Regions from separate parts of the Homo sapiens genome. Here region 2 is linked to region 1. The links come from fine-mapping of genetic effects on gene expression. A gene starts in region 1. The other region holds a variant in brackets. All regions are shown on one strand. Distances are between the middles of the regions.

What was found. PIP is the estimated chance that this variant, and not a neighbour inherited with it, causes the effect. A credible set is the group of variants that fine-mapping cannot tell apart.
Region 2: its variant is the best candidate, but not a certain one, in a credible set for the expression of LINC01871 in whole blood (INTERVAL, PIP 0.85).

Annotation. Positions count from the first base shown.
Region 1 is chr2:7,716,542-7,731,837 of GRCh38, forward strand. LINC01871 (long intergenic non-protein coding RNA 1871) reads left to right here and starts at 9,238. Exons shown (of 2, transcript NR_183384.1): 1 at 9,238-9,312; 2 at 13,975-14,180.
Region 2 is chr2:7,441,482-7,456,777 of GRCh38, forward strand. It overlaps LOC100506274 (a long non-coding RNA gene), which reads left to right. Exons shown (of 6, transcript NR_038432.1): 5 at 4,399-4,475; 6 at 8,403-8,773. Among named protein-coding and RNA genes, the nearest start is that of LINC01871, 280 kb to the right of the region's middle. The variant T/C (reference allele first, on the strand shown) is at 8,346.

The DNA.
Region 1 (15,296 bases):
ACTGCAACCTCCGCCTATATATGTGTGTGTTTTCTTTATATATGATAGTGTTGGTTTGTTTGTTTGTTTGTTTGTTTTTGTGAGACGGAGTCTTGTTCTGTCCCCAGGCTGGAGTGCAGAGGCCTCAGAGCTCAACAAACAGTTCAGCTTGGCCTGACTTATACTCCAGTCTGTTAAGAATTTCTTCTGCACAAACATCACATGGCCTAGTGTGAACCCAAAGGACTGATGGGGAGCAGGGGGAGCAATAACCAGGCCTTCTAGAAGTCAGTCACTGTTATTGACAGCATTTTTAGGCACTTGATTGGGATAATACAATTTTCCCATTGTAACGTTTCCACTGTTGTGCCAAATTAAAGAGCTAACTCCTGCACAGGAGTGAAAATCAGTTGGGATGGCTCAACTTTCCTCTGTCCTTCCCTGTGTCAAACCTCCCAGACAGAACTGGGGTCTTCAAAAGCTGAATCTCTGTAAGTTGTGGCTTCCTCCAGTGCTTCGCTCTTTTTTTGCGGGGACAGAGTCTTGCTCTGTCGCCAGGCTGGAGTACGGTAGCGCGATCTCAGCTTACCACTGCAACCTCCACCTCCCAGGTTCAAGCGATTCTCCTGCCTCAGCCTCCCGAGTAGCTGGGATTACAGGCATGCACCACCATGCCTAGCTAATTTTTGTATTTTTAGTAGAGACGGGGTTTCACCATGTTGGCCAGGATGGCCTCGAACTCCTGACCTCTTGATCTGCCCCCTCTGCCTCCCAAAGTGCTGGGATTGCAGGTGTGAGCCGCCGCGCCTGGCTTTTTTCTTTTATATATTTATTAAATATGTATCAGCATCATTTAAGCAGTAAAATCTATAGTCAACAGTATCATTAGACTTTCTACATACGAAGTGATCTATTTGTTTTTGCATTTTAAATCCATATTAGGAAGATTTACTCCTAACTATTCTAGTATACCATTTGATATGTATATTATTAATCCAATTGAATACTAGTATCAGGTCAATTTACTTTTCATAAAAAAAAAAACAAAACTATTTCTATCATGGGCAGACCCAAGTTTGGACATAGTGTGTGCTTTTCTATAGCAAATGTGGAGCTGGGCTACAGGGATCCAGCACCTTGCCCTATTTTACCTATCTAAACCTTCCACAGCCTAAGGATCTAGGAAAAGAGTAAATAGATCGATGCATTGGGGTATGTTTTGTCAATTTTAATTTCTGTGTTCCCCAAACTTTAATTTGCTTCCCATTTCCTTCAGAACTAAAGAATATGTTACAGTAATAATAATAACAATGGTAAATACTTGCATAGTATTTACAAATTCCAGGCACTGCACTAAATGCTTTGCACAGTTTCACTCATCTTAACCTTACAACAGCCCTAGGAGGTGGGTGGTAATTTAGCTCCATAATTTATACGGTGGGAAAAGTGAGCTAAGAAATTTGCCCCAGGTTTACACAACTAGTAAATAAGTCAGTTTGGATTGTCTATCACAATCTAGCTCTAAAATTTATGCTTTTATTAACTAAACTATACTACATCCAAAAAAGATATTCTTAGCTTTATATTCAAATACATTTTCCAGTTGTCTTTATACAACTTCCCAATCTCATCTCCCAGGACTGTGCAACTCTAGCCCAGTGGAAACCGCCGTCTTTATTTTTTTATTTTTTTATTTTATATATATATATATTTATTACACTTTAAGTTCTAGGGTACCTGTGCACAACTTGCAGGTTTGTTACATATATATACATGTGCCATGTTGGTGTGCTGCACCCATTAACTCATCATTTACATTAGGTATATCTCCTAATGCTATCCCTCCCCCTCCCACCACCCCACAACAGGCCCCGGGGTGTGATGTTCCCCTTCCTGTGTCCAAGTGCTCTCATTGTTCAAATCCCACCTATGAGTGAGAACATAAGGTATTTGGTTTTTTGTCCTTGCGATAGTTTGCTGAGAATGATGGTTTCCAGCTTCATCCATGTCCCTACAAAGGACATGAACTCATCCTTTTTTATGGCTACATAGTATTCCATGGTGTATATGTGCCACATTTTCTTAATCCAGTCTATCATTGTTGGACATTTGGGTTGGTTACAAGTCTTTGCTATTGTGAGTAGTGCCGAAATAAACATACGTGTGCATGTGTCTTCATAGCAGCATGATTTATAGTCCTTTGGGTATATACCCAGTAATGGGATGGCTGGGTCAAATGGTATTTCTAGTTCTAGATCCCGAGGAATCGCCACACTGACTTCCACAATGGTTGAACTAGTTTACAGTCCCACCAACAGTGTAAAATGTTCCTATTTCTCCACATCCTCGCCAGCACCTGTTGGGACACCGCCCTCTTTAGACCTGCTTTTTCTTCTGCAGCTGCCTGAACTCCTTGATGATGCAGGCACGTCTCTTCCCATCCTGTTAGCTTCTGATGGGAAGGGATTGGGAGATATAAAATGAGACTCCTCAGAGATGTACTTTCATGGTTTAACTCAAGTGTGATCATGGACGTGCCATAATAAAATTTCAAGAAGGAATGCTCCAGCAATTAACGGAGTGCAAACGAAATAGCCGTCAATCAGATGGTGATGGAAGAGCACAGTTGGGAAGACTTTCTAAAAGAAGTGCTATTTGGCCAACAATTTTAAGATAGAAAAGGAATTCACCAAAAAGCAGTGGGGAAGATTTGTGCATATGGGAAAAGTTATTGCAGACATAGAGCAGTCTTTTGTTTTGTTTTGTTTTTATTTTCTGTAGAGACAGGGTTCTCACTATGTTGCCCAGGCTGGTCTCAAACTCCTGGCCTCAAGTGGTCTTCTCACCACAACCTCCAAAAGTGCTGGGATTACAGGTGTGAGGCACTGAGTCCAGCTGAGCAATCTTTGTTAGTTTGTGAAAGCACAAGCAAACCTGTGAGTAACTGTGTGTAACTTGAATTCATTAAATGTATATGTATATTTACATATTTATGCACATATGTGTATGGCCTAGTGAGGCAGGAGAACAAGACCTGGAGGCAGGGAACCTAAGGACTTTCAAGAACTAAATCAAATGGAAACACTTCAGCTATGACAGGAAATATCCTCTGCATTTACATAGGGTGTACACCAAGTAAATGGCTTTGTAACTTGACTTCATTCTCTTCATTTCTATCAAGTAACCAATGGAAACCTCTAGAGGGTTTTTAAACCCCAGAACATTCTATAACAGGGCTGTTGAGCCCCTATGCTCATACCCACTCCCACCCTGTGGAGTGTACTTTTGTTTTCAACAAACCTCTGCCTTTGTTGCTTCCTTCTTTTCTTGCTTTGTTTGTGCATTTTGTTCAATTCTTTGTTCAAGACACCAAGAACCTGGACATTCTCCACTGGTAACACTAGTATTGTGACTGCTACTGTGGATGTGTGTATAGTTATATATGTACACAAATATGTGTGTGTGTCCTGGTCTTGTGACTGCTACTGTGTATGTGTGTATAATTATAGATGTACACACGTGTACTTAGTGTTTCCTCAATAACAGTCAGCATCTTCCTGTTTTTACTCCCCACGCCCCTTGGTCTAGCATGATGCTTCATATGCAAGCAAGGATATTAGTCCATTTTCAAACTGCTATAAAGTGCTGTCTGAAACTGGGTAATTTATGAAGAAAAGAGGTTTAATTGACTCACAGTTCCACATGGCTGGGGAGGCCTCAGGAAACTTACAATCATGATGGAAGGTGAAGGGAAAGCAAGGCACCTTCTTCACGATCATGGTGGAAGAGATTCAGGCAAGTCTCATGTGGCAGCAGGCAAGAGAGAGAGAAGGGGTAAGTCCCAGACATTTATCAAACAACCAGATCTCATGAGAACTCCCTTGCTGTCAGGAGAATAGCATGGGGAAATCACCTCTATGATCCAATCACCTCCCACCAGGTCCCTCCCTCAATACCTGGGGATTACAATTTGAAATGGGATTTGGATGGGGACACAAAGCCAAACCATATCAACAAGGTTTTGGAACTTAACATTTCTTTTGCAAATAAGCTTTTATTCTCTTCATAGAGAGACCTTGAGTATATCTCTGAAATCTTTGAGTAAGAAAGCAGAATAATAAGGGTTTTTTATATTAAGTAAGTTAGATTCTTGAGCCTCGTGAGAAAATTGTATCTGAACTATCCACAAATATTCTGCTGTTTCAATAAAACGGCATGCCTTCACCACAGTCTACCTGCAAAGTACATTTCAAGGTAAATCCTGTAGGCTATAGGGATTTTTGAATGTTCTTTTAACAGATTATTCTATTATATGCCCCCTCTTGGTGTGGCAATCAGTGTGATATGTACTATCACAATTAAAAATTAACAAAAAAATTTACAAGAAATAAAATGATTTGGTGGATGTTTCCTTTGTATAGCAGTTTGCAAAATGTATTCTGCTGTGGGCTCTTGAAATAGATATTTTATGAACAGGTATAAAATTCTCAGGCCTGTCATGTACAATTGCTACAATTGATTTGTTAAATGGCTGCCATTTTACTTGGGAAAATATTTGTGTTGTTTTTTCTGCTGATAGCAAAGCTCCATGCCAGGAAGGCATTTGCTCATTCCTTGGAGCTGGCCTCACAAAACAATTCACAGCAAAATTAAAGCAACTTAAGAAGAAACTTGAAAATCAGAACAACCATGTGCTTAAGCAGGAGAAGACCCACTAATGTAAAACGGAGACAAAAAGCCCTAATTAAATGCCGAATCAAACCAACTCTACTTTCCTTTTTCTTTTTTTTCTTTCTTTCTTTTCTTTTTTCTTTTTCTTTTTTTTTAGGGAGAGAGTTTTAACCTTTTAGTGATTCCCTTATTCTGAGAAACAAAAGAGAGGGAGTTGCAGAGCACAGAACTCTGCAGACAAAATGTCCCAAATTTCCACCTTCTATTCAGCAAAGGGGACGAGGAAAAGAGGATTTTACCCAACCTATATGTAGGGATTGTTTTCTTAAACTACTGACAACAGTGCCAGAGAAAACCCACGCTGAACGCCTCCTTTTGACTTTCTCATCGGGAGTCTTCTCTTACCCGTCAGATTCTGGTCCAGAAGTCCCCCCTGGCAGCTGTCACCCTACGGATTTGCAGAGATGAACTCTCTTACTGGGCCTCCAGTGGAAGTGAGAAGGAAGCTGATTTCTGCAGAGGAAGACAGGGAGATGACAGGTTTCTTTGATAGATGTTTGAATTTTGTTTTTCTAGGGCAAGGCAACTCATTTGGTGGACATAACAGGCAATCTGGTCTCCACACAGACAATCCAGATGGTTGTTACGAGTTGAGAGGAGCTGGCCATCGGGAGGCTCAGGCCAGCTCTTTTATTACAGACCATCTTCTCCCCACAGTCTGCAAGCTGCATGGTTTCCTCTGAAGGACTGCGTGTTTAAAAATTCAAACATCCATACGACTCTTTATTTTCAAAAATTAAGTGCTACATAGAAGTATGCTAAACTCAAGGCCATGAAATACTATCCAGTTTTGCCATCTTCCTAAGGCAAAATGCTCATGAGTTGGAAGCATGGGACACATTAATCAACATAGAGCTAATCCTGGCTCTGACCTTAGCTCACTGTATGGCCTCAGACCACTCACGTCTCTTCTCTGGATTTTATCCACCTCCAAGTGTAAATAGTCTTGGGTCCCTATCAGTTTTGACAGAAAATGATAGGTTTAATTCAATAAGTCTGTCTCAATTCGAATCACTGGGTTTTTAATTAGTACAGTAGTCTTTCCTTAATTACAGGGGATACATTCTAAGACACCCTGTAGGTGGCTGAAACCACAGGCAGTACTGACCCTATTGCCATCAAGTGGAACATGTTTCGGTTCATGTCTTCTATCCACAAATGTAGAGCCTTTTTCATTTTAACTAAGCACTTAACACGCACCGCAGCTGTAACTTTTGCAGTTTGAGGTGTGACAGCAAAACTAGCATGAATTTCTTTTTTTCTTCACAATTTCTTGAGTAGAAGACTGAATCTTAGCAGCCTCAGCACACAATTTTTTTTCTTTCCTGAAGCCGAGAACTTTCCTCTTTTCACTTAAAGGCAGCACTCTATGGCTTCTGTTTAGTACATCGACGTTGCCAGCATTACTACTCTTGCGCTCCAGGACCATTATGCAGTAAAATCAGGGTGATCTGAACACAAGCATGGTGGCACCACCATAGTCGATCTGATCTCTGAGGTTGCTGCTCAGTGAGTCATGAGTGGGGAGCATGGATAGCGTGGATCCGCTGGACAGAGGCTGATTCACTTCCCAGGTGAGATTTCACTCACATGACGCAGGACAGCGAGCAATGTAAATTTCTGAATTGTTTATTTCTGAAATTTTCCATGGACTATTTTAGACCACAGTTAACCAAGGGTAACTGAAACTTTGGAAAGCGACCCCTAGAAGCGAGGACTATGGCATGCACTAGATGCCGGAAACTGACAGCTACATGCTACATGCTCTCAGGGAACTCAAAAAATGCACTACTATCATCTGTATTTTAACCTTGATACTAAGTGTAATTTTTAACAGTGTGAAGCCAAAAAAGAGGACTTGAAAAATCATAGACATTCTGAAGCACTGACTAATTAGAGGACTCAATCGACACTTCCAGAAATACCTGGAACCCAATACAATGCTAAACAATCCAAGCGCTAAGCTAGGCTAAGCCAGTTTGGCAAGGGGTGAAGGTGAAATGGGTGAAGAACCTGAGAGTGCAGAAGGAGTTAGAGAAGCTCTGTTTGCAAATGAATCTAACTACATCTTCCTTTACAGGAATGAACGTGGAAGTGTATCCAACTGGAAGAATAAGTCCAAACCAAGGAGATTTTGAGAGTCAAACTTAGGGAAAACCAAGAAGAAACTAAAAGTCCAGAGATTGAACCACCAAATGTAAGAACTAATCTCCTACTAATAGGAGGAATCAACATGTTCTTTCCAACAGACCTGTAGCCTCTGATGGCACACAGTGTCACTGAGATCAGCTGGGTGGTCAGGTGTTTGAGCCACCTTGAAACACCAGCAGCTGAGGAAAAGAGCTCCTGCTGCACCTGCTGGGAGCGGTGGGGTTGGGGCTTCCCACTTCCCGAAGCCCTGGAAAAGGGCACCCAGACATTTTACAGAATCCTTGAGATGGAAGGTGAGTTTTCCAGGCCATTCCACAGGTTAAGCCTGCTGGCTGATTCAGCCATACAGGAGAGTTTGCCTGGGAATGGATACCCCAGTGGCTGCTACTTTGACTGATAAAGCAAGCCCAGGAAGATGGTTGAGAATAGTTTGTGCACTCCGATTATCTCTGACATTTTCCCAACTCATAGTTGGAGCAGAGCTATGACAAAGGCATGCATGTTGCTAGTGCAGACATCCTCTTGGCTGTTAAGGGCTGAATTCTGTACCCCCACGTTCATATGTTGAAACCCTAACATCCAATATCTCAAAATGTGCCTGTGGAGACAGGGCCTTCAAAGAGGTTGCTGAATTAAAATTTGGTCATATGGGTGGGCCTAATCCAATCTCACCTGTGTGTTTATAAAAGGAGATTAGAACACAGACACGCCAGGGGGAAGACCATGTAGGGAAACAGGGCAAAGGAACTGCCTGCAAGCAAGAGAGAGGCCACAGAGGGAACCAACTCCGCAGACATTTCGATCTCGGGCTTCCAGCCTCCAGAACTATGAGACAATACATTTCTACTGTTTAGCCACCCAGTCTTCATACTTTGTTACAGGGGCCCTAGCCACCTGTAGACCAGCATAGGGTCAAAAAGCTGTCATGACCAAGTGCCCACACTGGGTCAGCAGTCCCAGAAGCAGTATCAGAATCATCTGTGCAGATAAAACTCTGAAGTCCAAGAAAGAGCCATTGGCACACAAATAAGACCAGAACAAATCAGGGAACCAGGTGATGACCTTTACTGTCAGAGATCCGTGTATACAGTACAGTCAGCTGACAAGAGGGCTCTCAATCGTGGCCACATATTTGAATCACCTGGGGAGCTGTTAAAACCCATGACACTAGGTCACAACCTAGACAAATGAAATCGGAATCCCTGGAGGGTGAGACCCAGGCATCAAGAAGGATTTAAGATCTCTGCAAGATTCAAATAGGCAGCCAAAGTTGAGAACAGCTGGCTTAAAGAGATTACGAGACTTTGTTACAGTATCTCAGCACGGATTACATTTCAATTTAGTTCTTTGCTATTATTCTTATCCTCTGAAATGTTTACACCACACGACGGCCTATCACTGGCTCTGAATTTTATATCATAATCACATAATAGGTTCCTCACTTAAGTTGTAGACATAGGCAAAACTTTTCTTGTTTTTGATGTAAGATAAAGGGAGAGAATGACTGGAGCAAAACAAAAATAAGATAATACAAAATAAGTCATGGGGTGGCATCACATTTTAAGAGTCTTCATTTATGACAAAAGCACAAGCTTATTTGTTGGGGACATAACTTTTGCCATTTTTCCTACCTTGACTGTTTAAGCTCGCAGCAATTTTATAGCTCGCTGTACAGGCTAAGGCTTTTGGTGCCTTTCTTTTTTAAGCTGTGTCAAAATACCTTTAAGGAAAAAAGATGATTTGAAAGGTATAAACCCAACGAAAGTAATAGCACAGTTACAGTTTTTGTGTTTGGGCAGATTTTAAGACATTTCTATGTATTTTTCTGACACAATGGATCCTAAGGACTGCCGTAGACGTAGATTAGTCTGATTTTAGGCCATTGCTTTGCAGCATTATGCAGTTTTTATCTGAAAGACGTTTCAAGAGGGGGAGCTAGTTAGCTAATTAATTAGAGATTGTGACTTAAATTTTTCAGACAAGAGATACTTTCCGAGTTTAAGGAGAACCCGAAGAAAGCTGCGTTTCTGTATCCGTGCCATGGGAAGTCTCCTGTCCTGTTTCCACTCTGCCTTCTCCATAAAGCAGGCTGATTATCAGGGCCCTCACACAAGCCCAGCGTGGTAGCTGATTAAGGCTTGACAAGCAAAAAGCAAACAGGATTTCTAATCATGTGTCTCATAGAAATGGAGCCACAAAAACCCAAAGAATTGCCATTACACCCCAAGTCATGCAATTTAGAGCAACTCAGGAAATAGGTGCACACAAGCAAACCATGTGGTTAAAGCCTTTGGAACTGGTTTGAGCAAAGCTGTAGGTGATTTGACAAAATCATCTGCAAAACCAGATTTCTAACACCTCCCTGCTGTGTATCTCATTTCTGCTGATGTGTGGTGCTTCATAAGATGGGGACGTTAAGCATGCAGCAACTACAGTCATTTGTTCTCAGAGGTGAGTGTTGCAGTTATTTTTATTACTTTTTCTCTTCTTTACTCTATTCCTTGCCTCTCGCCAGACATTCCTTAAACCACCTATCAACTCTCCCCTCACAGTCTTCCTTTTCTGTCTGCATTCTTTTTTTGAACCCAAATCTAACTTAGCTGCTTTTGTGGTTTTTCTATTCACTTTGTCAATTTCTCCCTTGGTTAGAAAATAAATTCCTGTGCACACTCACACCTATGCAAGGGCTGCTCTCAGACATAGCAGGAGGCCAACTTCAGCCTCAGCCTCTTGAGCAAACATTCCCAAGAGGGAAGAGCAACATGGGTGTGTGTGTGTGTGTGTGTGTGTATTGTGTTTATTTGTATGAAATGTCAATAGGGCATACTAATAGCTTGTGAACAAGTATCTATATCAAGATAGACAACCCCAATACATTCGACATGTTGAATATTTAACATGAATCACACATTTCTTGTGAATTGTGAGCAATATAGTTGTACTTATGTGTATAGATATGTGTACATTTATACATGTATATATATAAGGTACTCTCTATAGAGTACCTTATAGCTTACAAAGTGATTTCAAGTACATTTTCTCACTTGACCTAGAAGAGAGAATAAGTAGAATGTGCACATCTTACTCCACAGGGAACCCCTCTTGGAGGCCGGTCTCAGAGCTAAGGTGATAAATGGGGCCAAGAACAGTGGCTGATGCCTGTAATCCCAGCACTTTGGAGGCCGAAGTGGGTGGATCACCCGAGGTCAGGAGTTCGAGACCAGCCTGACCAACATGGTGAAACCCTGTCTCTACTAAAAATATAAAAGTTAGCCAGGCATGGTGGTGGGCACCTGTAATCCCAGCTACTCGGGAGGCTGAGGCAGGAGAATTGCTTGAACCCGGGAGGCAGAGGTTACACTGAGCCAAGATCACACTCCAGCCTGGAGGACAGAGCGAGACTCTGTCTCAGAAAAAAAAAAAAAAAAAAAGATGGTAGATGGAGTGTGACAGTTTGTGTTGGCATTTTGGCTTGGCAGAATTAAAGCCTAAAGTGCAGGGCCAAAAAGAGCCAGATTTGCAGCCTAGCTTCACCACTCCCTAACCATATTGCACTTGGGCATGTTCCTTAATCTCTCTATGTCTCTGAAACAAGAGGAAAAATCTCTTAGAGTTATTTGTGCAGAGTGAGCTACGATGTGTAAAATGATAGCCATTATAGCATGCACGTGAGCATGTACTATTAAACATAAGCAATCATTTGTGAAGCATGTTGAGATGCACATTGTCTAGCACCCCTGAGCCACCTTGGCTGTCCCGTAGCAGTCCCCAAGAGTCCTTTTCTAACATGGTTATGCCAGAATAATTTGGTTAGTTCAGGTGGGGTGAGCACAGTGGGGCAGGAACTGTGTCTAGTGGTTGCTGGGCAGTTTTGCACCTGGAGCTAGCACAGTCAGTTTTGTTGCACAAATGTGTGCCAAGCACTTTTCATAGGTCAGAAGCTAGAGAATAGTGTGCTTGTAAGCAAGCAATGAGAAATAAGATGGGAGCTCTTATTGGGGTTCCCTAGCTTCACCATCTTCAGTAACTTCCATCTTTGGTTCTGGCGGGCTTTTCTGAAGGACAGAACAGAAGCCCATGATAAAGGTGGGGTTGAGAATTCAAAAGAGATCTTTAGAAGTAGAACAGGGCCAGGGCCCATGTTAAGATTGAACTTTAAGGCCAGGCACGGTGGGCTCACACTTGTAATCCAGGAACTTTGGGAGGCCAAGGTGGGAGAATTGCTTGAGGCCAGGAGTTCAGGACCAGCCTGGACATCATAGTGACCCCCTATCTCTGCTAAAATAAAAATTTAAAAAAATTAGCCAGGCATGGTGGTGCACATCCATAGTCCCAGCTACACAGGAGACTGAAGAGAAAGGATCACTTGAGCCCAAGAAGTTGAGGCTATAGTGAGTTGTGATCATGCCACTGCACTCCAGCCTGGGGGACAGAGCAAGACACTGTCTCCAGAGACAGAGAGAGAGAGAGAGAAATGAAACTTTGGGAAGGAATGAGAGTGATCACCAGGTAGTGCTTCTGAGGAAGCTTGCTCTGATGGAGCTGACAAAGTGCCTTTATCTACTATGGATTAAGCATTACAACCCCAAAATCCAAAATCTGAAGTGTTCATAAATCCAGAATTTTTTGAGCAGTTACATGACACTCAAAGAGAATGCTTATTGGAGCATTTCAAGTTTCAAATTTTTGGATTTGGGATGCTCGATGGGTAAGCATAATGCAAATATTTCAAAATCTGACAGAATTCAAAATCCAAAACACTTCTGGCCCCAAGCACTTTTGATAAGGGATATTCAATCTGTACTACCCTACCATGAAAATGAAGTCTCGGGAGAAATGAGTTCTATGCTTAAGACTGAAAACTTACAAAACTTTATTCTTTGTCTAGGAGAGACATGAAAGCTATAGGGAAAGGGATGCAATTATTATTGTTGGTTTTAACCTTTTTGAACCCAGTCTAATTCACAATGAGATTAATGACAGTGTTTATTGAGCTTTTCCCACTTGGCCAACAATATGTTAGGGGTGGCAATCCCGATAACAACCTAAGAAGTAGACTTTCCATTTTACAGATAAGGAAACTGAGGCTTGGAAGGATTGACTTGCCGAAAGGCACAGACAGAGGAAACGGCAGCAGTGCGATATGCCTCTAGATAGTCAATCTGGGGCTTGCCCTCTTCACAATAATGACAGTAGCCACTGCATAAGGGCCTGGTGAGGACTGGAGACAACACATGCAAAAGAACCAACAGATTCTCGGCGCAGTGCATTCATGCATGTACGGATGTCATGTATGAAAGTGCCTGGAAAAGGGCGGCCATTGCACATTCCTTTTGCACTTGGGAAAACTTCATTAAAGTGTACCATGTAGTCAAATGGTTAGCCCGATTTGGTGTATGACTGAGAAATGGGTGATGCCCTCCTGGCCTGAATTCAGGAAACTGCACATCAGGGAAGCAGAGCTAAACTCTTAGGGACCCAGAGTGGAATTGTTTAAAGGCTAAATCACCCCCAAACCGCACGCGGTTCTCGTCAAAGTTAACGGCAGTGGCTCATGTGTGCGTGGACACTGTGTGATCCTCCATAGGGAAGGAGAGCAGCAGTGTCCTCAAGGATGAAGCCCTTCCAGCCGAGCCCCCATTGGTAAAGAACCTGACAGAGGAAAAGATGCTTCTGTTTCTGGGAAAAGGCACATTATACGAATCCAGGGCACTGCCGGAATACAGCCCTATAAGATATATCAGTACATTCATATGCGTGCTCCTATCACCCATCCAACAAATTGAATGAAATTAAGAAAGGAGCAGTCATCATAAGTCATATCTACTCAGAAATGTATATTTAAAAGCAGGCTGCTTTGGACAATGCTTCGCTCATTAAGACTCTTTTTAGGTGCATTGTTTACTGTGTAAACCCTGATTAATTTACAGTTTTTCTTTTTGCCTGACTCATAATTACTCTATGGAAAATACAATTTTGGAGAATACAACATTAACTACATAGGATTGGTATTAACAGTCACGGACCCACTGAAGGCGAGTTTTACTGTTCGCTCAATGAATGTCCTTCAGTATCTCTAAATTAGATGGAAAAGCATCTATGATTTCAGGGCCCATTTAAATAAATTAAAGCCAGAAATGAGTGTGCTAACTTTGCATGGATCCAAACATTTGCCACTGTTTTCCTGTCTTCCCTTTCTACCATTAAATTCAACCCGACCTTTAGAATTTGTGTCCCCCAAGCAGAAGATAGATGATTCCCGTGTATCAACCTTGTATTAAATGCCTACCATGCACTAAGCACTAGGAAAATAGGGAGGAAACAACACCCTGGATACTTTTCTCAAGTAGCTCTCAGTGCAGCGGGCTTAGCATGGAAACAGAAGCAGCAAAACGTTGTGGGAAGTGTCTGTGTAACATGCGGCATGGCTGTTATTTAATCCCAATTAAAAGGATGAGAAAGTTGAGGTTTACTAAAGTTAAGGAACTCCCCTAGGTCCATAGTTAGCAAGCGCTAGAGACAGAATTCCAAACCAAAGCAGTCTGCTTGAAAAGCCCAGTTTTGTCCCACCCCTTCCCTAAGCATTTGTTCAGATGGGAGTGAACAATGCATAAAACTGGCTGTGGCATTCGGCTGACCTGAGATCTAGTGGTGGCCTTATTCCCAGCATGCAAACTCTCACTGACATGCAAACCCTTGCTGACTACTTCATATGAGAAGGCAGCACCATTCCTCTGTCATGTATGAATGCAATTTTCCTGAGACATTTTTATTTTCTGTTGCTTGTTTTTAAATAATTAATGCCATTGTAACAGCAGCCTCTCTTCATTTAGGAGGGCATTTCCACTCTGAATTTCCAGTTCCAAACATTTCAGTTTTCCACCAAGACATCATTCCTGGGTTTGGGATTCCTGAATTTTCTCCACACAGAGGTGACTGCTTTCAGTGGAAAACTTAGCGAAATTGCATTGTTCTCCCTGAAGTATCTGTGTAACCAAAACAATGTTACTGCTATATGACATGTTGTAGGCATTCTCAATACATTTGGAAAATGCAAAAGTAACTGTGATCTAACATCTCAAACTGGCTATGGATTTATTTTCCTGTGGTCAGGTCTGGACCAAAGAGAAACAAGAAAAGCTGGAGTCACACTACCAAAGGCCGAAGCTGAGCAACAGAGCTCTGGAGTCAGCTGCCTGGGTTCAGCATGCAGCGCTGCCGTGGACGATCTGTCTCTCTTGCATATATGACTTACCAGTTTTACTTTCAGTCTCTCCATTTCTAATTAAATGAGATGCAGAAATGCTGGTGCCTTGCTATGATGTTTGCAGTTATTATTTCTAGGAAAAAAAATATTATTGTTACTCAGTATCTGGTACATCAAAACTAAGCCAGAAACGTTTAAAAAGAACAAAAGTATCATTTCTACTTAATTCTCTAGCTACTTGGACAACTGGACTATGCCCCTCCTTTCAAGGGAGGGCAAAGCATTTCAGAAAAGAACTAAGTGCTATTTCTCTGCTTCAGGAATGTCTCCCGTATGTAAAAGAATGTGGCTTCAGGGAGTAGCATGTGTTGTAAAGGTGGATGGGTCTAACTTCATGGACAGCTCTGACATCCACTAGCTATGCCACCTGATGCAAACCACTTGGGCTGTCTGTAGTTTCGTTTATCTTTCTGGAATTGGTAATAACAACCACCTGGCAAGATCACTGTTATGAATACGGAGGATCAAAGTTGTGAAGTTATTTTGTAAAGTGAAATGTTCTGAAAATTGGATTTTAACAGTGTCAGCGAAAAGTAGATTTTTGACATTTATCAAGAGTTCAGCTAATGAAAACAAGTATGGATAATAGTTACATAGAACTGTCTACTTTACTCAGTACTTTAGCATATGCTATTATATTTAATCTTCTTAAAAAGTAGAAAATTATACAAGCCATGTATTACTATTATTGTGGTGGTTGTCGTTCTCAATTACACACTGAATATTAAGACCTCTCAGGTAGCAGCTGGAAGGACATTGTATCCAGTTTCCTGATTGTTTTCAATGGAATAATCATGTATACATGCACTACTAATGAGACAATGGTGATTCTAAAAGCTTAATCAGGGGGACTTTTGTGTATTCCAAATCTACTAAAAATAAAGAAACACAGAAATGAGAAAAATGTACATTAGCAAGAAAATGTACACCAGCATTCAGGCTTAGCCTTTTGAGAGCAATATGATAAATAGAAATAGAATTTCACAAATTTAACATGATGCTAATCGAGGAATGAATGAAAAAGTGGTCAGCAGTCTAAATGGAACATAACACAAAGAGATCTCGTAAACAGTAAGCTTTGTGCAGGACATCTCTTGGGGGTCCCAGGTGTTGGGAGAGTCAGGGAGAGATGTCTACTGTTTGAACAGCAATAATACAAAGTTGAAGT
Region 2 (15,296 bases), 280 kb before region 1:
CTGCAGAATGAGTGTTGGAAAGAAATTCTGACTTTGAATTTATCACAAAACACCCTTCAGTGTAGGATCCCAAATACTCTCTGAATGATTAAATAAATAAGTGAATGGATATCTTTCCTCCTGGAATGAAAATGGTATTTAAAGTAGACCTGGGTTTACCTCCCAGCTCTGATCTTGATTAGGTGTAAAACCAGGTGCAACCTATTTGACCCATCTTAGCCCCAACTTCCTCCCTTACCTGAGAAACAGGTAGAGATACCCATTTCATACACTAGTACATAAGGAGCAGAGGTAATATAAGCAATGGACTTTACTCATTGTTTCAACAGTTGGCTTTCAATGCATGGTAGGTCTTACTAGGGTTATAAAGATTCTTTGCCAAGTGTCTGATTCTCTAAGCTTGATATGGTTTGGCTGTGTCCCCACCCAAATCTCACCTTGAATTGTAATAATCCTCATGTAGGAAGGGTGGTGCTAGGTGGAGATAATTGAATCATGGGGGCAATTTCCCCCATACTGTTCTCATGGTAGTGATTAAGTGTCACAAGATCTGATGGTTTTATAAATGGGAATTCCCCTACCCAAGCTTCTTGCCTACCACCATGTAGGACGTACCTTGCTCTTCTGCCATGATTTTGAGGCCTCCCCAGCCATGTGGAACTGTGAGTCAATTAAAACTCTTTCCTTTACACGGAGCTTGCAGTGAGCTGAGATTGTGCCACTGTACTCCAGCCTGGGCGACAGAGCAAGACTCTGTCTCAAACAAAACAAAACAACCAAACAAAAAACCAAAAACTCTTTCCTTTATAAATTACCTAGTCTAGGGTATGTCTTTATTAGCAGCATGAAAACAGACTAATACAAAGCTCTATCATATACCCACCTTGTCAAAAAACAGGAGGAGATGGGAAGAGGGTGAAAATTTTTAAAGGTAAGAATATTGAAGGAGAACCATGGTTGAGAATACATGCTGAGGGAATCTAGAATATTCAAAAGAGAATTGGCACTAGGGATACATGTATCATAGCACCCCTTTCATGGTTTATCCCAGAAATAAAAGCTTTTTTTGGATAAAGGATTATTTGTACAACCATTGATGAGGAGAGGAGCTGACAACAGACTGGAGCGTAGGTAATGTGACACTTCCTCGTGCCAAACTTTCAATACAGCTTGTTGTGGTTCAGCAGCATCAGTGGGATTTATTGGTTTGTTGAAAGTGACAAAAGTTTTCTCAATAGGCAATGATAAACAAAGGAGATTGTTACAATAAGAATAATTTTGGAGTTCTAAATCAGATATAATTCACCAGAGAGAATGAAAGTATGGAATTTTACAAGTTGTGTGTGTGTGTGTGTGTTTACACCATTATGCTGTGGTCAGGCAGCTGCTTTTCCTTCTTTTTAATTAGCATTTTAAGAAACATTTCACATTCATTGTTTGTTTTTATATACTCTAGTTTTCTTTTTTTTTGTAATCATTAGAGTCTCTGTTTTATGTGTATTTCACACACACACAAAAACACACACACAAACACACTCTTTCAAAACCCCAAAATGGTATTTTTTTATTGCCCTATGTCTCTAAGTTAAAGGAAGCTAACATTTTCACCTCTCCTTGTTTCAAGTAATATTGTTTATCAGCACTGAACTTTTCCTTTCTCAAGATGCCTGTGTTTGACTGTGAGTTTGATGATCATTCACCCACATGCCTATGCGAAACCTGTAATTAAAGACATTTTATGAAAGATACTGTAGTTGTCACTAAGCTAAAAGACCTTGCTTTCAAGTGGTGAAGCTGAGGCTCCAAGTGCTTAAGTTAAAATATTGGTTATATAATTGACACACGTGCTTGTCAACTAAATGATTTCTTTTGTTTTCTCTTCAATATTAAATATTTAGCAGAAAGAGATAAGTGCAAATAAGCAAGTGTATAACACGATCAGTGTTTTGTTTTATTTCCTTTTTAATCTTTGATTTTTGAAGATCTTAATTCAACAATTTAAGGGCACTTAGTGCCACCACTATCCTCCATCTCACTCCCTCATGGAGCAACTACAGACTTTAATTTCTTTTAGTCCAAGTAAGATAGCTGTAGAACAGGGAAACTTTAATATGCATAAAGGCTGAAGGGTACTAGAGCTTAATTTCTTACTCACATAAAGTATAAAAGAGGTGTTCCTGTTGGTGGGCATCCCTCTTCCAAGCAGGGATGCAAGGTTCAGTTTTTTTCTTTTCTTTTCTTTTCTTTTCTTTTCTTTTCTTTTCTTTTCTTCCTATTTTTTTTTCTTGAGACAGAGTCTCACTCTGTTGCCCAGGCTGGAGTGCAGTGGTGCGATCTCTGCTCACTGCAACCTTCGCCTCGCGGGTTCATGCGATTCTTCTGCCTCAGCCTCTGGGACCACAGGCACATACCACCATGTCCAGCTAATTTTTGTATTTTTAGTAGAGATGGGGTTTCACCATGTTAGCCAGGATGGTCTCGATCTCCTGAACTTGTGATCCTCCTTGGCCTCCCAAAGTGCTGGGATTCCAGGCATGAGCCACTGTGCCTGGCCCAGCTTTTTTCATATTGAGTAGAAGCCCAGGTAGAAGAGAAACTCGTGGAAGATGGCTAGAGCAGAGCTTACGGGCCAAGCTGGAATCTGTAAAACAGTATACAGCTATTTTGCTCATAGTTTATGGGCTAGAACTCTGTTACATGGACACACCTGGCTGCAAGAGATCCTGGAAAATGAAGACCAACCATGCATGTGTGTACACAGGAATGCATGCACAGAAATGGAATCACACTCTTCCCACATTTTGCTGTGCATTGCTTTTACCATATCAGCCCATACAGCTCTATTGCATTATTCTTAGGGTTTGTATAGCGTTTTGATAGAAGAATGTTTTATTTAACCAGTTTATAAGCCCTCACTTTTAAAACCACACTAACTTTCACAACAGAGTAAAAACCTTGCTTATTAATTCTATGAAATGACGTGTTTTGGAGATTTGAATTTTGTTGGTAATTAAGCCTTTATCACACCAAGCACCACTTTTCATCTGAATTTTAAGGAATGTTTGCACGAATCTCTTTCCAAATTCATTGCGCAGTTAGGTGCTTTCTTAGAAAAAAAATCATCCACAGACAATAATTTAACAATTTTATTCATGAGAATGGGGATCCCCCAAGCACTCAGTTTGTCTGTCCTATTTCCCACTCTTCTTGACTAGTTAGCTGTGGCCCTAGGCTGTGGATGTAAGCAAAGTATGCTTATTTGGGGCCAACATATGCAAGATCGGCTGCAAACTTCAAGCTGTCTTCCCCTGTCATGGTGATCAAGGATGTCTCACATTGAAGTGGTAGATGCACTAGATCAGAGCGATAAGAATCATTGAATTACTACGTGGAGGGCTACCCTGAAAAATTGCCAAGAACTGCAGTGGAATTTTCATGACTAAGAAATGCAAACCATTATTGCATCAACCTTCTAAGACATAGGTGTTATTACCAGAGCATATTCTAGCCTAAGAAAATGCTTACGCAGTATTATTTATAATATTAATCATATTACTTTACATTATTAATTATATTAATTTACATGTTTTGATGGATTTATAGCTTGCATAAGGCTTTCCTAATCATTAGCTTAGGAAATATTCTATGACTTGTACAACAATGCAACTGTGGGTACAGACAGTTTTGAGATGTGTTCTACTCAACATTTATGAATTTATGCTATTTTACTTTTGAGTTTGCATATCTTCTTTTAATAACATGTTTCTGCTTTTGTGTATGTCTTCTATCCTATTGCAACTTTTCATGTTATGTGATTTTAGTAGGCAACATTCAAATTTAGTTTTACTTGTAATAGCAAAAGTGAATTGTCTCAGAATGAGAACCTGAGAACCACCTTTCTAAATAAGCTATTTTACTCTTAGTCCATAGAATTTGAAGCCTTTGTTTTCTATCAGAAATATTATCTCAATAATACTTCAAATTGCTTCCTGTCTATTTTTATTTTTTTTAAGACAGAGTCTCCGTCTGTCTGTCACCCAGGCTGGAGTGCAGTGGCTCGATCTCAGCTCACTGCAACCTCTGCCCCCTAGGTTCAAGTGATTCTCCTTCCTCAGCCTCCCAAGTAGTGGGGACTACAGGTGCATGCCACCACACCTGGCTATTTTTTGTATTTTTAGTAGAGAAGGGGCTTCTCCATGTCGGCAAGGCTGGTCTCGAGCCCCTGACCTCAAGTGATCTGCCCGCCTTTGCTTCCCAAAGTGCTAGGATTACAGGTGTGAGCCACCGCACCCAGCCTCTGTCTGTCTAGTTTTAAGAGTGGTCCTGTGGCAATCCCTAGCTTCTCTATGTGTTTTTAAACTTAATTCCATCTTGTCTCTCTTTACTTCCTATCTACAGAACACTTCACTCTGTCTCGATTACTACATGGTGAATTGAAGTTCCAGTAGAGAGGGAGTTGAGCTGATACTGAGGAGGTATGTATGCTAATACTGCCCAGTACTAACTTGGTGTCCATTTTAGCAGAAGGCAAGTCACTGCGTTCCTTTTTTCAATCAGTAAAACTATAAGGCTGGGTTTGATTACCAATTAAGATTTTTCTGTATACCAAATTATCTGGTCTTTGGAGAATGAAAAGCTGTTCAAATCTTATAATCAAGCAGCAAAGAAGTACTAGGTAACATATTTTCAGTATATGCTATGAGCCAGTTCACAATGCCATGCACTTCACTATATCATCTCATTAAACAAATTTGTGAGATTCTCTTACAATTTCTGTTTCATACATGGGAACTGAGGCATAGAGAGTACCATGCTCAGGGTCATGGAAGGAGTAAGCACTGAAACCGGCAGTTGCATCTGAGTGTATCTGACTCCTGGATCTCAGGTCTTCTACAAGCAAACAGGAGTAGTTGCTACATAGGCCCTCAGAAAATTAACACAATAAATAATAGGTGCTGTAGTTTGTACCAGAAGCCAGGCACATTTCTGCCCTTGGTTGCAGCCTCTTCTGCCCAGATATTGTCGGTCCATACTTTCACAACCTGTCGTCTCATGGTTAAGGAATCCCTCAGGAGCAGCAGCCACTGCAGCTTCTGGGCTGGCTAGCCACCCTTCTGTAGATTCCATGGGTGGGGAATGGATCTAGACAGCCTATTAGTCACAGCACAACAGGCAGCATGAGCTTCTTGTTGCATCGGTTCCATATGTCCCCAAGGTAGGCCCAGGTGATTGCCATGTACAATGGGGTCTGCATCACAGCTGAGGAACATGGGGTGCCAAACCCCTAACCTTAATGGGGCTGCTAGCAAACCTGCCCAAACTTTGTTTCTGAAGGAGACACTATCCTTATTATCTTGATCACAAAACAAGTCTGCCCTTTGCCCTTAAGGGAGACACTAGCTTCTAATGCTGCTAGATAAATGTAGTCTGAGATGCAGAGACACCATAGAGAACTGCATCCTGACAATTCCTAAAGGTGAAAATGTGGCCAGAAGCAAACTCTATTCATATATGTGTCCATCTGGTGGGCTTCCATAGCATTTGCCTTGCTCAGACTTCTCTTCACAGCCAAGAAGGATGATACAACGTAGAGCATGGAGTGTGGATGAGAAGTCCCCACAAGTTCCCCAGAAGGCTATTTTTCTCTGGAGCAGATAGTCTGAGTGTAGATTGGTATAATCCATTTGGAAAACATTTTGGTAATATGAAGAAAAAGACATATAAGTACATTGATACACATTCAATGGAAATTACAGGTCTTGGAATCAATTCCCAAAGGCATAATTCAAAACTCTTGGGAAGACCCACAAAAATAGATCCTTTATGTAGCAAAAAGGTGATCATAACTTAAGAATAGGAGAATAGATATGATATAGTGTACTTTCTTGATGAATTATTATCTTTTTACTTAAAATGATGGCTATGGACTCCAATAATAAGAAAAATGTCTATGACATAATGTTATATGAAAAACTGGGTTTAAACTGTGTATATAATATGAATACAAATGTGGTAAGACACTCACTCCTAAGGGGAAAAGGTTTGAAGAAAATTCATTAACTCCTAAGCATTTGTTGAATTAGACTGAGAGAATGAAGAATGACTTTTTTTCTCTTTTTATAATTCCCTGCTAACTTTAGACACATAGTTAGATTTTAAAAGGAAAAATATGTATAAGGCTAAAAAGAAAAAAAATCGTAGTGATGTATTAATGCCCTCTCTAGACCTAAATCAGAAACCACCAAGCATTTTTCTTCTTTTTAATGTTGTCTTTTCATTTTTTAGGTTTATTAATTAAAATCTCTCCATTAAACCTATTTGTCTGCCCAGCATAAAACAGCATCCGGGCCTCTAAAGAGAAGTCATGGGACAAACTACCTGCCCAGGGCTCACTGTTGAGGCAAAGGTACCCTTCATCGGACAGGATTCCATTTTTTGTCTCCTGGATCTTTCCTCTTTTTTTTCTTTATTTATTTTTATATTTATGTATTTATTTATTTACTGAGACAGGGTCTCGTTCTGTCCCCCAGGCTGGTGTGCAGTGACGCGATCTCGGCTCACTGCAAGCTCCACCTCCCAGATTCTCGCCATTCTCCTGCTTCTGCCTCCAGAGTAGCTGGGACTACAGGCGCCCGCCACCACACCCGGCTAATTTTTTGTATATTTTTTTTAGTGGAGACGGAGTTTCACTGTGTCAGCCAGGATGGCTTCGATCTCCTAACTTCCTGATCCGCCCCCCTCAGCCTCCCAAAGTGTTGGGATTACAGGCGTGAGCCACCGTGCCAGGCCGATCTTTCTTTTCTCTACAGGAATCCCCCCAGGAATAAAATGCAAATTTGCGTGGGTATTGCAAGGTCCTTAGAAGTTAGTATTGACTCCTTCATAATCCTCTGGCCCTACCCATCATTAATAGAGCCTTCCATTAACAGCATCTCCCCGCCTAAGCATGCTGGGTCCCACCTCGCGACCACCCCTTACTCTAACTGGACCCACACAGAAATTTTTCAAGCTCCTAGAATGTTCCAGGGTCTCTGGCTTCCGAATCTATCACCTACAGTTCTATCTGCCCAGAACTCTCTGCCTCCCCAATTCACTCTCACCAAGCTAGCTGTTTCCTGATTAAAATTGCTTTCTTCATGACAAAACCCTGTACTCCAGATCCCCCAGTCTGGATCAGGCACCCCTGCTGGGTCTCCTCCCTAGGAGCCTTCACCTTAGTCCCTGCCGTTACCTGAGTCTCATCGCCCTCGTGGTGCTCTCAAATGCTCCCTCCACAGTCTGGGAGGTTTTCACTGGGGACTATCCTGGAAAAGGCGTAACATGTGATTCTAAGAGGTGACAGTGAGCACCCACATGTCATCTCAAACTGCTGAGAACAGGGAAGGCAGGTGAAGGTCCCGCTTCTATTGTTTTGTAACAACATAAAAGCACAGTTTATTTCCTACATAAATTTTATTTTCTAAAGAGGCCTTGGGTACTGAGATGTGAGATGGACTTCACGGAGAGCTGGCTGCATCACGAGCCCCAAAGGGTAAGAATCAGGCCTGGGACAGAGCACTCACACACATACCGTGTGCTCACAGGTAAGGGCAGGAGTGCGCAGCAAAGAAAGCTTCACATGGCTCCCATGTAACCTGACTTTTATCTCTGCTTTCACAGAATGAGGCATAAAACTACCAGCTAGGCACTCGCCTTCCTTTCTATTTAAATTTGCTGTATTGGAATGCGTTTCTATGTCTCACCTAAGTTATTGTCTCATAGTGCTTGGATAAACTTTGTTTTCCATTATCTTCCTAAAAATAAACTTCTTGAAATACTGTGTGTTAAATCATCTCAACTTACATCTGAGGTAATCAGGCTTTTGGTAAATTCATGAAGTATTTGTTCCAAGTGTTGGAAATTCACCCTTGAAGTCTCATCTCTGAGTGAAATGTCTGCCTTAGAGAATAACAATGATCACAGCACCCCAGGACTTCTCCTGTGTCAGTGGTTCTCCTCCCTCACCATCTAAGGGGAGGGGGAGAGAAACACCTGCTCTCTCATGGCAGCTCCACACCCCTCCCCACATCTGACTTCCTCCTTGGTGGAGAATTACTGAGCATTCCTGTTAAGAATACAGCACATCTGACAAATAGATTGAATTGAAAAATGTATAAAATCATCTAATTGTTAATTGGAGAACTAGGTAAAATCCTTAATATGTAGAGAAATTTAAACATACTTTTATAGGTTTATATGTATTTGGACAAAGATTTTTTTGTTTTTCTCCAGGCTAAAACACCCATAACCATCATCTTTGGTGAGGAGAAAAGACAGATATTTTAAAAAAATTTGTGTGATGAGAA[T/C]TTATTTATTCAAATATTGTTTTTTTCTTATTTTCAATCTTCATTTTTTCCCTAAAGATAAATACCCATCACTGTATACATCTACTTCTTGGAATTTGCAAGGGAACCAGTCAACAGATTTTTCAAGCCTTATAAGTTTATCTGCCTGAGAAGTTCACCAGCTACATAACATCCTGGACTCTGGAGCCCAAGAGATGTGTAGTTTCCATTTTGGAGCCATTTTCTTTGATAAATAAGTAGTGAGGCTGCCATTCTTGTCAAAGTTGAGGACCACAACCTTACTCATGAAACTGAAAGATTGTTTGTTATGAGGAGTTCTGTTTGAGCCATACAAGCAATATATCCTTTTTAAAGAAATGTATCCGGAATCTTAGGTGTTCATTGCTCCAAGCCATGTGCAGAATAAAAAGAAAACAAAAAACAAAAAACAGGAAGTGTGAATATTTTTGACCAATACAGTGATTACACTCCATTCCCCAAAAGATTGCCTACAAATGTGTCTAAGCTAGAAATCATCTACAGTCCATACTACGGGGTGGATCAATGGTGATTTCATCAGCACCAGCCCAGCTGCTCCATGACAGAGAGGCCTGCATGCCGCCCTCCATCTTCCACCTGTCCACGGCTGACACACGGTGGGAAAGGGTTTTGCTGACATTGGTGATCTGAGCTGAAAATGTGAAGCCACCTTTTGGCATATAATTCATATTGGTTTTTCAATCATTTGTGTCTGTGTGTTTTCTTTTTGTTGCATTTTTTTTCCCTTCTTAAGAAACTCGTCATGTGGTATTGAAGGTGACCTGACTATGGCAAAGAGCATGTTCTGTGTGGTTTGCCTTTCCACCCACGCACAACACACTTTGCAGACTTGACAGGGATGGATCAGCCCCACAGAAGAGAAAACAGAAAACCAAAAAATACCCCTCCTCTGAAAAATACCCCCGGTGTGAAACTCTTTCTGAGAAAGACTGGCCCTTTTCTTTAATGTAAAAAAATATATATAACAAAAATAGATTTCTTCTCAAGACTCTTGTTTATTCAGATGATATCAATTCTGTTTCCAGCACAACATGTTGTAGCTGCTACTCAGAGATTTTTAGAAAGTCAGATCAACGCGACTGCAATGGGTTTTTGCCGTGAGTGAGCTGTGCTTCTCACTTGCTTACTAGAAGGTAAATGCGTAATTATACAGCACACTCACGGAACAGCAGTGAACTTTATGGGCGTATTTCTAAAACAGTCTGTTTACATCAACGGTGCTATACAAGTAACAAATAATAATAACAGTGTGAAGAAAATTAGCTCCTTAGGATGCATAACAGTTAATATGTAGCTCTGTATAATTAATATCCTGCAATTTAATGTGTTACTCATTTTCTTTTTTCCCTTCCCCTTTACTAGGAAGAAAGAAACAGAATTTGTTTAATTAAATATGGCATTTTCACAGTAGTATCAAGCCATAATATATCAGGCTGAATTAATCTGATTTCCTACCCCATCAACTTGACATTGGGCATCAGTTTATGCCCGACTTCCACTATACCCACTTAGAATATGTAAATGTTGTCACCTCCTCATTGTTATTTCTATCTCCATGCCTAACAAATGTGTAGAGAGTTCTCTCCTCTTTCAAATAATTGTATATACATTTAATCAGTGGTTTTCAACTGGGGCCAATTTTGCTCTTCCAGGGGACATTTGGCGAAGTCTGGAGACATCTTTGGCTGCTATAACTAGGGAAGGAGGGAGTTCTATTAGCGTCTGGTGGGGAAAGGCCAGGGACCCCTGCCATGCCCAGGCACACCTCCACAGCAACTATTCAGCTCAAAGTGTCAGTAGCATTGAGGTTGAGATCCCCTGCATTAGCTCCTTGATCTTTAAAACCATCCTCCAAGGTAGGGATTGTTATCAGTCTCCTCATTTTATGCATGAAATTAAACAAAACAAAACTTAGGCCCAGATGAGCCAAGAGATTTGTATCCAGGATAATCACAGGGCACAAAGTGAAGGACTTGGGTCTTGAATTCAGGACTCGAGTCTAAATCCTTCCACACTTGCCCCAGCCTTTTTTTTTTTCTTGCATTAGTCCTGCTTGCATAAGGCACTTTTGTTTACTGTAGCTGGCAACATATGTGCTCTACAGAAGTGTGTGGGGGCACATGTATTTTCCTGACATTCACACTCTTATTCTAGCAAACAGTTCCTAGGAGGCAAACAAGTCTGACTTGAGGCAAAATTGTGAGAAAAAGCCAAGCCCATCTTTGCGCTTGTGTCCTCCTGTGTTTGTCAGTGCTGCCCCCAACGAAGTGGCCACCCTAGAGAGTCCACTGCTGTGTGTTCTCATTCTTTCCTGGCCAGGGATACTTAACCCCACCCATCAATGCATCTCACTTGTAAAATGTATACCAGACCCATATTGCAGCTAATCAACGAGCCAGGCGGAAAGATGGTATGCTCAGAATGTGGGCATTTCCTGGTAAGCAGGAAAGGCTTCCTGGCCTCTTCAAAGCAGATCAGATTCCTATCGAAGCCTGTCCTCTTTTCTGAGGTGTCAGGGCCACGCACGTTGTGGCTTTTCAATGGAAACATGGTACCTGTCAAATTCAGGAAGGCGTTTTCCTACTGCCAAATGAGCTCTCCATGCTCCCCAAAACAACACTCACGAAAAGCTGCCCAAAGCTAGGGATACAGAGGAGAGGGCTACTTTTTAGAGTGACTTCTAACAAACCATTTTTCCACAAGACAAAAGAGCAGAGAGATTCAGTTGTGTGTTCATCCTGTGGTCTACAATAACAGCAGCCCCTCCACCGTCAGCACCGCCCATGCTATCATGCCTCTGCCTTCTCTCTAGAGCAGTGCACTCCCGGAACACACTGGGAAGGGGCCCTTCCTCTAAACTATCTAGCTGTCACTGTCACCACTTAATAAACAGTTAAAATGCAGTGACTCAGATTGCAAGTGTCAGTTTGGCCTGGGTGATTGTCAAATGGACCCATCCCAGCTAATTTAGGTCTTCCGTGGCTCTACTCAGGATGCCTAAAGGCAGGCCTGATGCCTACACATCCTGGCAAATTCCAGGAGCAAGGGGGGCAAGAAAAGTGCATGGAGAGTGCATCCGGGCATGGTGGCATCCAGGTGTGAGTGACGTGGAAGAAAGACTTGGGAAGGAGGAGCCACGTGCTCTCAATCAGTGAGTAATTTATGGTCTGTGCTCCAAAAACAGCAGCAGTCCCCCTTCTCCTACAACCTCTGGAGGCAGAACCCATGGCTCTGCCATGTCAGGTCTCTCCACACCTGCTGTGACAAGCAGGAGAGAAGAGAGTGTTTGTCACTCAAGGGAGTTCTTCATGGACGGCTTGCACTTGCCGTCGTGAGCCAGCTGGTCCCATCACTCCTTGTACAAGGGGCTTCTCTCCTACGCTCACTTAATTCAGTCAAATAGCATCCATGTGTGGTTCTGGGCCACATTCTATCATCCAGAGTGGCTCATTAAGGATGCCCAAGTGGGGTGAAGAGTGTCTGCAAGTAATTTTGTAAATTTTAACAAACTTAACAAGAAACAGTCTAAAGCATTCAAAACACAAAATCGACCAAGTGCCTGCTACAGGCCAGGCACTGTGCTGGGCTCTGAGGCTGCTCCAGCATAATCCTTGAGCTCAGAAGTTTCAGAGGAAGCAACCAGTTGCCAAATAACTCTATGTACATAATAATAAGATACATGGGATTCTTAAGAAGAAAAAGAATTTCTATCACTGAATACTGGAGACAGGAGATTTGGTGTTGGTAACAGAGAGTATAAACCACAAAGTGCACATGACTTACTGACTTCAAGGTGTGTGGCCAGCCAACAGGTATTCTTGACATCCTTAGCATAGAACATTTTGGAAACATTGTGCTTATTATCCCCATCACCAGCCTTTGCATTGTTGTTTATTTCTTAATTCCACATTTATTCATCTTTCCACATTTATTTATCTTTCCACATTTATTCATCAAGCTTATTCATGTTTCCAGCCTATTTTAGGGCAAAACATTACCTTGAATTTTGTATTTCATGGATGTTCCGATCTGGGTTTTTTTCTGTTCTTTAGACCCGATTGAAATACTATCTCCTCCAGGAAGTTCCCACTGAATGCTTCTGGGATCCAATAATCTATACAGAGTGCCCACTCTTTATTTGCAGGTTTTTAACTCACACATCACTTTTTATTTTTTATCATACGAATTAGGTTTACTGTTGTGCAAATTGCTTTATCCAGTTCACATTCTTACAATCATGAGAAGAATAAGTATATCCAGAAAAATGCTAAACATGTACAAGTTAGTCTTTGGATTCATTGTCACTGAAATCTCACCAGCGCTTTCCATGATCCCCTTACAACACTGCCCTTCCTCCATCCCCACGAAAGTCAGGCCCTTCCCACCATGTGCTGGCATAGAATCCTGAATATGTCCCTTCCAGAGCCCTTAGAAATGACACTGCCATTTGTATTTTTGTGGTTCTCTTTCTCTCTGATGAAACTTGAGTCCTAAAGAACAGAGACTGAATCTGGTTTGCGCCGCATCTTGTTTAGGGCCAGATAAACAGGAGGAAATTAGTGTTCATGTTGACTGCATGTAGGTTTCTGTGTGTAGGTTTCTGTATGTAGGTTTCTGTATGGGGGCATCTGCGTGTGGGCATCTGCGAGTGTGTATCTGCATGTGGGTATCTGCATGTGTGTATCTGCATGTGGGTATCTGCACGTGGGTATCCGTGTGTGGGCATCTGCATGTGGGCATCTGTATTCTGCATGTGGGTATCTGCATGTAGGTATCTGCATGTTGGCATCTGTGTGTAGGTGTCTGTATGTGGGCATCTGCACGTCGGTATCTGCATGTAGGTATCTGCATGTCGGCATCTGTGTGTAGGTGTCTGTATGTGGGCATCTGCACGTGGGTATCTGCATGTAGGCATTTGCATATGGACAGCTACATGTGGATATCTTCATTCTGCATGTGGGCATCTGCATGTGGGTATCTGCATGTGGGCATCTGCATTCTGCACATGGGTATCTGCATGTGGACATTAGCATGTGGGCAGCTGCATGTGCATATCTGCATGTGGGCATCTGCATGTGGGCATCTGCATGTGGGCATCTGCATTCTGCATGTGGGTATCTGCATGTGGGTATCTGCATGTGGGTATCTGCATGTGGGCATCTGCGTGTGGGTATCTGCATGTGGGTATCTGCTTGTGGACATTAGCATGTGGGCAGCTGCATGTGGATATCTGCTTCTAGGTAACTGCATGCAGGTGTCTGTTACTCACATGGGCAGTAGCTCTGAGGAGCCAGCACAAAGTCCTGAGGCTGGAAGCCTGGGACATCCCACTATTTATGTTACACAGATAAGTAGTAATATGCTTGAAACAAATCGTTCAAATCATTCATCACACCGGAAACGTCTTACTATGAGTAAATTCCACCCGTACATAAACAATTTTTGTTTTGTTCTTTAACCCAAACTTATGGACTGACCTTCAAGTAGCAATCTGAGTTTTAACTTTGAACTGTGTCTCTCATTAAGTGTTGAAAGCCAGCTGAGCAATTAGCATTTGAGGAAGTTAGTGTCAGATGTGACCCATGGATGCCTGTGTCCAGAGCTTCGAAATCCTGTCTTCTTATTAGGCTAAACCCTTGGATAACACACAGACCTTATTAGTGAGCCTCAGTAAACTATCATCCCTGAGTTACCTCTGAAACTCATGATGGCTACATTTTTTTGGAATATTTTTGTAAATAATTACCATATAGAATACATATCTGTCTGTTTTATACAGTTTCATGATAGGCATCTCCGTTGTAACCAAGAAAGGTAGTATAACATGGCTGGGAACAACGGATCACTGTCTTGGATCCCATGCCCATGGGTACTTCCTCTTTGACTAGCTGTGCATGAACTTGACTAGGCACTTACCCGTGCAAACTTCCGTGCCTTCTTTGTCCAAAAACGATAATAAGAATTATCTCTGTGGTTGTGAAACTGAGTAAAATTAATATATAAAATGGCATACATGGCCAGGACATAATTAAAAATCACTTTTTATTATGCTTTTGTTCAATGTCAATGTACATTATCCTTTTAGTCACTGTTTAGTAACAGATAATAAAGTAAAATGAAAAATGCCAGTTTTTCTTTTGGCTGCTATGAAGCTCAGAGCAAATGTTTAATCCTTAGTCACAGTAGTTATCTGAATCTGGATGTTCATTATATGGCTTTTCTCTTCCTCTCACATTATTTTTGTTTTTATTTGACATTTAGATTTCTGAAGTCCATATTTTATCCAAACAACACATTTTCAGAGTAGATGAGATAGGTTCTATAAATAAGTAAATACATAATTTTTATTTATATAAACAGAAAATATAGGCTCCCTGTCATGTAGGACTTACAATATTGTTAGGGTAAGAAAATACACACAAAGTAAAATTATAGATGTCTGCGTGTACACGCACACACACACACAAATGCAGAGTGCTGTGACTGTAGCTTTCACAGCTGGCTCTCCGAAAACAACAACGAAACCCCTCATTTGTAGGGTTTGCCAATTTCCATGGTGTCAATATTCTTACCATGGCTAATTTTAAGCTCCCACTCATTTAAGAACTGGCTCATACAATTCCGAAAGTACGAGTTGGCTCTGCAGAAAGATGCTGAAGTGGCCTAGTCTCGAAGTGGGAACTCAATTCAGAAAAGAAGGGCTACACGTCTATGGACCAAGAGAGTCTAAGAAAGTCTTGGGGAGCATAGACAACCTGAGGTGCATCTTAACAGACTCATATCATTTGGAAATAAATAAAGACAGGTGAAAAAGTTCTAGCACCTGTGTGTAGCCAGCTCACTCATTCATTGTGTATCACTGCTTTGTTTATTCAAACCATTTTTTAAAAATTATGACCAGACACCACGCAC